Homo sapiens: one gene and its partners. The protein of the gene in region 4 interacts with the protein of the main gene of each other region in a pairwise test. Each region holds a gene or a part of one and is shown on either strand. Other genes may lie near its edges.

Evidence for each region. Proteins that work in one complex are often made in the same cells at the same time.
Region 1: the proteins of RNF44 (region 4) and KRTAP19-5 interact in binary tests that used the Homo sapiens proteins (3 or more experiments, as listed by UniProt).
Region 2: the proteins of RNF44 (region 4) and KRTAP19-1 interact in binary tests that used the Homo sapiens proteins (3 or more experiments, as listed by UniProt).
Region 3: the proteins of RNF44 (region 4) and KRTAP22-1 interact in a two-hybrid assay, tested with the Homo sapiens proteins (one large-scale study listed by BioGRID).

What each region holds. Positions count from the first base shown.
Region 1 is NC_000021.9:30,501,157-30,503,420, reverse strand, and holds KRTAP19-5 (keratin-associated protein 19-5), read left to right. Parts: upstream 1-1,279; 5' UTR 1,280-1,330; coding exon 1,331-1,549; 3' UTR 1,550-1,764; downstream 1,765-2,264. UniProt on the Homo sapiens protein: In the hair cortex, hair keratin intermediate filaments are embedded in an interfilamentous matrix, consisting of hair keratin-associated proteins (KRTAP), which are essential for the formation of a rigid and resistant hair shaft through their extensive disulfide bond cross-linking with abundant cysteine residues of hair keratins.
Region 2 is NC_000021.9:30,479,206-30,481,814, reverse strand, and holds KRTAP19-1 (keratin-associated protein 19-1), read left to right. Parts: upstream 1-1,447; 5' UTR 1,448-1,497; coding exon 1,498-1,770; 3' UTR 1,771-2,109; downstream 2,110-2,609. UniProt on the Homo sapiens protein: In the hair cortex, hair keratin intermediate filaments are embedded in an interfilamentous matrix, consisting of hair keratin-associated proteins (KRTAP), which are essential for the formation of a rigid and resistant hair shaft through their extensive disulfide bond cross-linking with abundant cysteine residues of hair keratins.
Region 3 is NC_000021.9:30,599,648-30,601,882, forward strand, and holds KRTAP22-1 (keratin-associated protein 22-1), read left to right. Parts: upstream 1-1,439; 5' UTR 1,440-1,473; coding exon 1,474-1,620; 3' UTR 1,621-1,735; downstream 1,736-2,235. UniProt on the Homo sapiens protein: In the hair cortex, hair keratin intermediate filaments are embedded in an interfilamentous matrix, consisting of hair keratin-associated proteins (KRTAP), which are essential for the formation of a rigid and resistant hair shaft through their extensive disulfide bond cross-linking with abundant cysteine residues of hair keratins.
Region 4 is NC_000005.10:176,534,603-176,538,890, reverse strand, and holds the start of RNF44 (RING finger protein 44), read left to right. Parts: upstream 1-1,488; 5' UTR 1,489-1,951; intron 1,952-2,242; exon of another isoform or gene 2,243-2,428; intron 2,429-4,288.

The DNA.
Region 1 (2,264 bases), on a different chromosome or scaffold from region 4:
GAGATCAGGAGATCAAGACCATTCTGGCTAACATGGTGAAACCCCGTCTGTACTAAAAATCCAAAAAAAATAGCCAGGCGTGGTGGCGGGCGCCTGTAGTCCCAGCTACTGGGGAGGTTGAGGCAGGAGAATGGCGTGAACCCGGGAGGCGGAGCTTGTAGTAAGCCGAGATGGTGCCACTGCACTCCAGACTGGGCGACAGAGTGAGACTCCGTCTCAAAAAACAAACAAACAAAAAAATCAGGAAAGATGTTACAGTGAATACAAAGAGGAGATAGAAAAAAAAAAGCGTTGAGATAAGTCGATGGAAGACAGAGGGAATGTATGCAATAAACTTCTACCTGGCTGTTTCTATAGACATTAAGAAAATGGGAAGAAGAATAAAAGCTGAAATGAGAAAGGAAATAGAGGTCATATATACACTACTGAAAAATGATAAAGAAAGAAAGTAATTGACTAGAATGTGCAAAACAGAGGCAGATGCAATCTGCAATTTTACCAGGACTTTGAATAAAACCAATTATAAAGGAGAGTTTTAGGACTTGAATGGAAAACTAAAGTGCTACTCTGATAAGTCTGCGTAGGAGATGGATTTTGTGCCCTCAATTTCTGAAATTAATTCTTATGTATTTTGCAACCAAAAGGTTCTGAAGCTGGTGTGCAAAGTCAAAAATAGTATAAAAGTTATTGTGAATAAAATGCTAAAAATCAGCATACACTCTCTTTTTTTGAGTCCTTTGGCGATTGTACACAGCAGGGCATTAAAATCATTTTGATTTCAAATGTTTTCCTGTATTGTGCATATAGGCACTTTCTGAAGACCTCACCTTGATAAATAAGTTTGCTTTTTAAAACTATAGATTTAACATCTGTAAATTGAAAAAACAGCTGTAAATTTAGTTGAATATGAAGTTATCAGTTTGGAAGATGACGGACAAAGGAAATTATTCATTATAAAAGGAATACCATAAAGTGTAGATGATGTAATACACCTGGTAATAGGCAATTCTGTTGAGCATTTGGAATGTGCATATTTTGAACAGTAAGCCCTTTCTTTTCATAAAAGCAAAGCAGTAAGTTCAATCGTGTCCTGAATAAGACATTAAGTAAGCTGAAATATTTTAATGAGAATGAGGGCATCTCCCTACATCAGAAGACAATAGATAAATGAGTTGTAACATCAAACGTAATACAAATAACTATAGCAAAGGAGGGTATACAGATGACTCATCACACGCTCTGACCAGGGTATATAAGCCTCCTACACATGCTGGTGTTCACACTCAGGATCTTGCCTTGAGCAGCATACCAACTCACCACTCCTGACACCATGAACTACTACGGCAACTACTATGGAGGCCTGGGCTACGGCTACGGAGGCTTCGATGACCTGGGCTATGGCTATGGCTGTGGATGTGGCAGCTTCCGCAGACTGGGCTATGGCGGTGGCTACGGAGGCTACGGATACGGCTCTGGCTTCGGAGGCTATGGATACCGCAGCTGCCGTCCATCATGCTATGGAGGATATGGATTCTCTGGATTTTATTGAAATCCTTCCCTGACAACCTAACATGAGGGGACATAAGAAGATCACCCAAACCTGACTGCAATAACAAACAAACGAGGTCACCCTGGATCAAGCCAAGATCAAGAGCAGTTAGCATCTAAGAGGTTTAAGAATACCTATCATTCCATAATTCTTTGCTTTATGTCTCTGGATGTGTCTTACTTGTACCTTTATAACTGTGGGGTTTCTCTGTTCCTTTTAGAATAAATTATGCTAACTGAAAGCAAATACACGACTTTTGTTTTTTGCTTGACTCAAAATGGCAAAGTGGTTATTTGTAATTATATCCAGTGAAAAAAGAACAAACTACTATACATATAGAAGTATATTATATATAACAAAATAATTTTGTATATACATGCACCTATCTATATAGCTGTATGTATGTGTGTGCATGTATATATTCACATTCAAAGGTCACAGTTGACCCTTGAATAATGTAGGGGTTAGCAGTACTGATTCCCCCATGCAGTTGAAAATCCACATATAACTTTTGACTCTCCAGAAACCTAACTACTGGTAGCCGACTGTTGACTGGAAGCCTCACTGATAACATAAACAGTTGATTAACACATACTTTGTGTTTTATATGCATTATATACTGTATTCTTACAATAAAGTAAATAAGAGAAAAGAAAATGTTATGAAAATAATAAGGAAGAGAATTTATATTTACTGTTTGTTAAGTGGAAGCGAC
Region 2 (2,609 bases), on a different chromosome or scaffold from region 4:
AAATTTAAATAAAATAAAAATTTTAAAATGTGTCATTCGGTTACTCATAAATCTCAAAAAAATCTTAGTAGTATGATTATAGTCATATAAAACTGATACCTTTCTGGAGTTCCAAGTTTCAAGATATAGGTACATCTGGATGAGGCTTAATCAGGTATGAGGTAAGCCTTGGGCATTTCTAACTCTATGGGCTGAGCTGAGGGACTCACTGGTCAACTCTCCCTACAGAGCTACTCCTTCTTTTCTATATTTTTCACAATTGTCCCTTACATTTAGAGAATTTCGTGTTAATCTAAGTTGCACAAATATTTTTTTAAATTTCAGATAATTTGAAGAGTTGAAAAATGTTTTAAACAAGAAACACCATAATCAATATCTTAGAAGATCTAGTTGATTTCTCAGGAAAAGATAACTAGAAAGCGGTTAAAACAAAGCACAACAAAAAACATGGGCACAGAATAGGCAAAGACAAGGGCAAATATTGACTATGGAGATCTAAATGGAAAGAATGAATGTTGATTTGAGTAAATAGGTTGTAGCCAGAACATTTTACCTACTTCAAACTTTTACCTGGTTATAGTAATGAATTGTGGAGGAAAAGAAGTTGGGTGAAATTTGAAGTGAGATCAGCAAAAGATGCAAGAGGGATGAATTAATGACAAAAGGTAGAGAAAGAGAAACAATTCTGTATGAAGGCAGATTATAATCTTCATTTTTTGGTAACAGTGAGGTTAGAACATATAATGGAGAAGGGACTTGAGATATAAATAGAAAACTCTGGAAAGACCAGATGAGATGGGCTTTTGATCCCTGTAAGAGTCTCTCCACTTATGACTACAATTGTGCTATGTTCTTAAAACAAAACAAATATTTTGTATGCTGTTGTGCAAAGCCCAAAATAAATATAACAATTGTGCATGATCAAAGTTTTAAAAGTCTACAAATTAGGTGACATTTGTTTCTTTCAGGTACATACACAGATGAATCAAATCTTTCTTGCTTCTCACTCTACAAAATATGTGTGTTTTATGAAGAAACTGATGAAAGTAAGAGTCTTGACCTTGGCTATTTCTTGAAATTTTGTGGAATCAACTATAACCACGTCCAAAAATGCTAGTGATGAGAATATATTTGAATAGAAATTCAAGAATTTTTAATGTGACTGATGTTAAGTGACTGGTAATAAAGAATTCTATTTAAGGTTTGGTATGTTTTAGACTTTGAAGAAGCAGCAATCCCTTCTAATAAAATTAAAGCAGCAAGCTCAGGGACAACCTAACTAGGTAGCCAAACAAGCTCAGGCAATCTTACTGAGTGTTGTCAGGGGACAATAGATTAACGAGCTGCCTCAGGCAAGTATAATTCATGGAATGACACAAAAAGAGGGGCACATGTTTATCACATGCTCTGACCAGGGTATATAAACCTCCTATACATGCTGGCATTCACACTCAGGATCTTGCCTGAACAACAAACCAACTCACCACTCCTGACACCATGAGTCACTACGGCAGCTACTACGGAGGCCTGGGCTACAGCTGTGGAGGCTTCGGTGGCCTGGGCTATGGCTATGGCTGTGGATGTGGCAGCTTCTGCAGACGGGGTTCTGGCTGTGGCTATGGAGGCTACGGATATGGCTCTGGCTTTGGAAGCTACGGATATGGCTCTGGCTTTGGAGGCTACGGATATGGCTCTGGCTTTGGAGGCTATGGATATGGCTGCTGCCGCCCATCGTACAATGGAGGATACGGATTCTCTGGCTTTTATTAAATGAATTGCTGAAATTGGAAGCAGAGGAGAAACCTCCAAATGTGTTTGGTCCTGTCCCGTGCTTTCATTCCAAAAATCCATTCTATTGCCTTCAGCATCAATGGAGAGATATTTAGCTATGTTAAATCTTTAAAATAGATTTAAGCTGCTTCTGTGAATATTTGTTGTCTTTTTACTTTCGGAGTCCGTCACCTGAAATCATATTCATGTATAACTACTCTAGGTTGTTCTTCTAAATTTGCTTTATTTTTCTTACCACCATTACCTTGATGTTATCTATCAAGATCCTAGCAAAAACTTGTATTTTGCTTTTATCTAATAAATGAAGTAAAGTATAAATATTTTAGTTCTTGTCAATGTTTCCATTGTCATATTTAACATTTTATTTTGCAACTACTATAAAAAGTTTACTTATGAGGCAGTGAGATCTGTGGCTCCATGGTGGAATATGATGAAAATGTTTCTAGTTTACTGTGTTAACGGAAGCTTGAGAACAAATAAGATATCATATTAACAAGAGATAAAAATAACTTGCCTGTCTATTTACTTAGGATGTCAGCCCCTCTCAAGTGTCCCTCAAGTGTTCCTGGAATCACTAAGGATAGTGTCATTCTCATATTCTGCTGTGCAACGTTGGTTGCTGTTAGCTGAACGTCTTCTTGGTACCCCTGTTCTGGCCAGGCATGTGTTTGCTTTTTGTCCACCCTTCAGTTGAGGTTGCGGCAAGGAGATTGGGAAGTTTCACTCATTTCCTACTCAGAACTACATTCTATATTTAGCATCTCCCTGAAGGCCATTGTCCAATATTTGACTGAGGCAACTCCCACTGAAATGCGGCA
Region 3 (2,235 bases), on a different chromosome or scaffold from region 4:
TCCATATATCCATCATTCAACATCCCTAATATTAATATCTTTCATAACCATAATCCACTTATCACACCAAAGAAATTAACTGTGTACAGTATTCTTAACTAAACTGCAGACTTTATTTTACCATTTTTCTGTTATTATTAACTTATTTTATTTTAAGTTCTAGGACCATGGTTCATTGTAGCACTATTCACATATTTATTTTAATGTTCTTTTTTTCTGTTCTTGGATCCAATTCACATTGCATTTGGTTTTTATACTTCTTAGTCACCTCCAATTGCTCATGGTTCATTCGTCTTTTCTTGGCTTTTATGACCTTACAATTTTAGAGAGCCAGATATTTTGTGGAATATTCCCCAATTGAATCTGTCTAAGGTTTCCTCATATGTAGATTGAGGTTATACATTTGGGAAGAGATGTAACTCTTGTCTTGTGCCATCTCAGGGAGTCATGATGCCAATAAATCTTTGAGTAATTCTGGAATTGTTTTAAAATTCAGATTTTTAATAGAAGTCCTTTTCTTACTATATACCCAGAATCAACGAAGTCAAAAATCAAAGTCTTTGCCACGGTTTAGAATCATATATAAAATGATAGCTACATGTGAAGTATAAACCAAAGAGAATGATATTGCTCCACAAAAAGTGATGAAACACCTTATCACTCAACATTTTACAAGTGAATGCTGCCACCATGACTTCTCTTACACGCTTATCATCCTTCCTTATCACTTTGGAGCTACACTCTTATTCCCAAGTCTGCATATATGTATTTAGGCTGAAGGATATTATTGGGTGAAAGTAGGATTTTTAAAAAATGGAAGCCATCACGTCCATAACCCCAGGCTTTGGGAGGCCGAGGCGGGCGGATCTTGAGGTCAGGAGATCAAGACCATCCTGGCCAACATGGCGAAACCCCATCTCTACTAAAAATACAAAAATTAGCTGGGCGTGGTGGCACGCACCAGCTATTCATAAGGCTGAGGCAGAGAATCCAGGAGAATCACTTGAAACCAGGAGGTGGAGGTTGCAGTGAGATTGTGCCACTGCACTCCAGCCAGGCAACAGAGCTAGTCTCTGTCTCACAACAACAACAACAACAACAACAACAAGTGGAAGCCATGTGGGTTACTCTTGGTTGCTGGTAATGTAGTTTAAATTTGACATCTGAAATAAACGAGTCATCAAAATAGGAGATGGATCTCTTATTAAAGGTACATTATTTCATTATATTCAACATTCCTGAGAAACAGCAAAGTTGTCTTGGATGTATTGGTTACAAGGAATATTTTAGATGGTTTCAATGCTAATTAGTGTGGAATGTGAATCTAACAGTGCCTGTGATTTGTCCCACATACCATTCATGTGGCATTTAAGGCCCTTATTATAAGCTTAAAACTTTAAACTTAAAACTCTATAAACTTAAAACTCTAGAATCTGATCCTGCTATACAACTGAGCCTACCTTTCTTGAAACCATGAGCTTTGATAACAACTACCATGGTGGCCAGGGCTATGCCAAAGGAGGCCTGGGCTGCAGCTATGGCTGTGGTCTTAGCGGCTATGGCTATGCCTGCTACTGCCCATGGTGTTATGAAAGATCTTGGTTTTCTGGCTGCTTCTGAGAAATTAGAGATTGCTGATCTGTTTAGGCCATTCTCTTATGAGCTATGTTTTCTTCCCGTGTTTTTTTCTGTTCAAAGAGTGACAACTAAAATTTAGCCCACATTGCCAAGTCAGAATTTATTTGATCAATTAGCTGGAATTTCCAACAATTTAATCAAACGAAAAAAGAACCTTTGATGTTGTGTTACTAGTATATGATTAAGTACAAATAATGTTAAGCATTTTCATTTGGGAAAAAGTCTAAATTTATTTTTCTTCAAAGGTAATTTATTTTGCAAACCTACAGCATTTTCCTACCTATATTTATTTATCTAGAGTACCTATATTATTTGTGATTGTGTGTGTGTGTTCAGGAGCACATATGTAAGGTTGCTGACCCATTGGAAACTTACAGTTGATGATGTGGATGTGTTAGGTCTGACCAATAGTACTTTGATAAAATGTATTCTCATGGGCAGAGCCAAGTGGTACTATAATTTACTTTGATCTATCAAAGCCTCATCTTCAGTGTATCCAATGTTTGACTAAAATCATTGGCAAAAATAGTACCTCCCTTCTCATCACTTTATTCTGTTGCACATACATTACATTTCTTGATACTTAGTTGCATTTTT
Region 4 (4,288 bases):
TCCCTAAGGACAATTGTTAATCAGTTTCCTGTATACCCTTCCAGAAATATATGCAGATGTGGCATATGTCCAATTAAAGAAACCTGATACATACTGTTAGAACTGTTCAGCATCTTGGTTTCAATTTTTATATAAAATTTAGGATTACGAAATATACCAAAGCAGCATAGAAAATGAGCCCCCCATCCCCCTGCCCCATGGCCCACCACACAGGTTAACAGATGTTAACATTTTGCATTGGCGCCTTGTTTATGGCTGTCTTGGAGATAGCCCCGTGTCGCCTCCAGCTGCCTCTTTGTGGTAACTGCCCAAGAGTCGTTATTGATTATATGCATGCACCCAATATTCATTATTCGACCTGTTCCAGCTCTTGGATATTTAGCAAATTACTGATTTTCTGCTTATATAATTGTGGTGGAGGTAATACCCCATTTTGTATAAATTTTGCCCGGGTGGGTGGGCTTCGAGGCAAAGGAGAACGAGGCTCGGCTTTGGATTAGGTTCACACTCCTGCTCCGCCACACTTCTAGTTGTGTGATCTGGAGTAAGGGAAGGCCCTCACTTTCCCCATCTGTAAAATGAACTGGCTATAGTAATCCCTCCGTCTCATAGCTGCTGAGAGGAATAGAAAACTAAAGTATAGACGCTTCACTGGGCTTAGTTCCCAGTTTCCCTGGCTAGGGAGGTCTCCGCGGGGACACCAAACTCTCAAGCCCAGCCTAGCAGCTAGAGCGCCCAGCGCCTGCACTTTTGCTTTAAACTACAACCTGTTCCCCGCCTCTCTTCCTCCACCGCCACGCTGGGGGCGTGGCGGTTAAATGTCTCTGTGACGTCAGCGCGAGCAGGGCCAATCTCCTTGCCCGGCAGACGTTAGCTCGTTTGCATGGGTGGTCCGCCATTGGTCTGTTGGGCAATCTGGGCCGTACCAGCTTTTTAAAGACGCCGTGTAGTATAAACAAGGAGAAGTGGGGCGGCCGGGCCATGATGTCAGCGCGGTGCTGCAGCTCTTGGGGGTGACGTCATCTCCGGGAAGGTGGCCGGCCCAGGGTTGTTAGAGCCAGCATAACCACTTGGGCCGCTCTCGCCCCGTCAGAGGTCAGACCCATTGCACTTCAGTATCTCAGGCGGCACCCTGTCCCCGAGGAGGGGACCATGACACAGTAAGTCCGTACTGCCGGTTCTCCTGGCGGGACCCATTTCTTCGGCAGGGAAACTGAGCCTCAGAGGCGCGAGTAGTTAGCGAGTTTGCATAGCAAGTTCGAGTTGCAGCCGATCGGTTTTGCCCACCCTGGGGTCTCCCCATCTTTATGTCAGGATATGCGGCCCCGCCCCTTGCTTTTGACTATGGCTGCGGTCCCTTTAAGTGCGAAGGTGGGGGCGAGGAGGAGGTTAAAAAAATTCAAGATGGTGGCCCACTAGTCACGTGCGTGGTCGCGGCGAGTGATTGGCTCTCAGGGCGGAGCTCCCGGCGCGGGGCGGGGCCCCTGCGGGCTTGCAGCGGGCTACTGTTTGCCGGAGCCTCCCGGCGCGCCCCCGCGAGCCCCCTCCCGTCTGGCGCGCGACCCCGCCGCTTCGAATGTTGTGAATCAAATGTGGGGTTTGTTACATTCCGCTGCCGCCGCGGACAGTTCTTAAAGGGCCAGCCGCCGGCTGCCGCGCAGACCCAGCTGCGTCCTGCGCCGCCTCCCGCTCCCTGAGGGCCTGGGCCGAGAGAGACTGATCGCGCGTGGGCCTCGCGAGGCAGACGCCGTCGGGCGGACAACAAAGAGAGAGGCCCCGGAAGGAGCCGGGCTGCCCCCGGACCCGGGGGTGGGGAGGGGAGCACATTGTTCCGCAGGGCGGGAGCTCTTAAAGGATCCAGACAGGCACCCCCCCCCTCCCCCGCCCCCTGCCCAGTTTGGCCGTCCTAGATCGGGAACAAAGGAGTCAACGTGTGGCCGGGCGGCCAAAGGTGAGTCGGTGCCAGGGCCCCCAACTTCCTATTCCCCCACCCATGGACCTTCTGTTCCCCTCCCCTGGGAATGGGGGCCGTGATCTAGGTGGCTCCGTAGGGGTTAATCACGGGCGGTCCAGACTGCGGGCAGCGAGACCCCAGGGATCAGGAACCCCCCCCAAGGCCCCCCGTGGCCGGGCCGTATCTCCCCTCTCCTGCAGCTGAGCGCTGCGGTTGGAGAGGAAGGAGCCGCCCCCCTCCCCCTGCGGCCGCCACTTCCTTTGTTGTTGCTTTTGTCTCACGCCGAGCACATGGTCCGGGATCCTCGGCTCTTAAAGTCGCAGCGTTCTGGCCCCTGCGCTGCAGTCTCGCCTCCCGCCCCCGGTGTCCCTCCGAGAGCGGCGCAAAAGAGTAGGAAGCGGACGAGGGAGGCCCCTCTCGGGGCTGTGTCCGCGCCTCGGCCCCCCAGCACTATGCCTGGGGAGGGGTGGCTGGGTAAGCTTCCCAGAGCCCCACAGCGTGCACTTGGCCCGCGTTGGGGAGCCCCCCCTTCCCCAGGACCCTGGTTTCCTCCCCCACTAGTGTGACCACCTGGTTTCTTCTGGACTCTTCTGGTTTTATTTGGGCGCTGTGGGAAGGAAAGATTTCCACCCCCATTTTATAGCTGTGCCAACTGAGGCGCTCAGAAGCAAAGGGATTTCCTTGACCAAGGTCACTAGGGAGTCTTCTCTCCTAGTCTGGTGGTCCGGCCCTCAGCGGCCTCCAGGCACCACACGTTGGGAAGCTCTGCTTGCGCTGGGCAGAGCCTGCTTGTTTCGGGTGGGGTGTGGGGAAGTAGGAAGGGGGGCTTCTCTTCCTGGCTGAGTCTGCTCATGCCCCCAGGGTCTGACTTTGTTTTTATCTGCAAAAGGGAGTGTCTCTTCCTGCAAACAGATCCCTGGGGCTCTTAGACCAAGGTCAGGGTAGGTGCTTGGGGCACTGGACTTAAGGGGTTGGCCGGCTCTCATGGGTGGGTGTGGGGGGTTATGTTAACTGCAAAATGCATTGCGTGCCTGGGGCGGACGGGGCTCAGCGACGGGACTCTCAAGACCCGTTCACACAGAGCTCCGTGATAGGACAGCATGGAGATGTGGACGGGCAGAGCAGTTGTTAGGGGAGGCCACCTGGCCACCCTTGCTATTTGACCTTGAGCAAGTTGCTAGCTCCAACTCTGGGCCTTGCTTGCTTCTCTGTACTACAGAGCTAAAGATGGGTGCCTGAAAGAGAGTGCTCTCCCAGCCTCCTGTATGGCTTGGAGACTCGGGATTAGGTGATTTCCTCCAGCTACTGATGCCACAGGAGTTATGGCTTGGGGGAGTTTGGGCCTAGGAGGCCAACTAGGACCAATTCCGTTCTCTCTGGTCTTGTGGCCTAGAGTAACTTACTTCCTTTCTCTCGGCTCCAGTTTTCTCAGCCATGAAGTGGGTGTAACCCTTCTACGCCACCCCTGTTCCTGGCAGGGCTTAAAGAACCAGGATCCACTCTTACCAGCTGAGGTATTCCCCTAGAGTGGCATATCTGCCTGCTGCCCCGGAAGTGGCACCCTTCAAGCTCTGCTTGAGGTTGGAAATGGAGGTCAGCGTGTCGTATTCGCTAATAATGATCATTCACACCCAAGCTAAGTTCAAACTTTACAAGTTGCTTCTGCTGTTGCCTTGGAGCAGTCCTTGATGGGAAACTGGGAGGTAGTTATTGGGCTGTTCCCATTTTACAGATGAAGATACTGAGGCTCGGGAGGGGAAGCCCTTGCCCACGGTCTGTAGGCAAGAATCTCGCTAGAAGTCACTGTCATGTGTGAGTCTGTGAGGGCTGACATTCTTACCCACGGCTGGAGGCCCTTCTGTCTCCTGGCTTGCTTTCACAGCTCCTTACCACCTTCCCTGCCCTGGGGAGTGGGTGCCTTTGTAGGGGGCTGGCCACAGAGCAGACACCCACAGGCCTGGGCCTCTGCAGGAGTGCCTTGGGCCTGGCACTACTCAGCCATCTGCAAGACATCCTGACATAAGAGGAGCAGTCAAGGCTGCTGGCTTGGTGGCTAGTCATGGGTGCTTTATGGCCAGACTGCTTAGGTCATGCACCTGCGCACTCACGATTCCAGCTGACTGGCCTTGGACCTCACCTCTCTGAGCCTTGGTGTCCTGACCTGCCAGTGTTGCTGGGAGGACTCACCAAGTTGGCGCCGGGGAAACAGCATGGTTATTATGGTGACTGTTCTGCACCAGCAGAACTATGGGCTCCCCAGCTTTCTGAGGTTAGCTAGGGTAGAGATTCCCAAATCTAGCTGTGCTGTGACAACTTCTGGGGAATTTGTTAAAC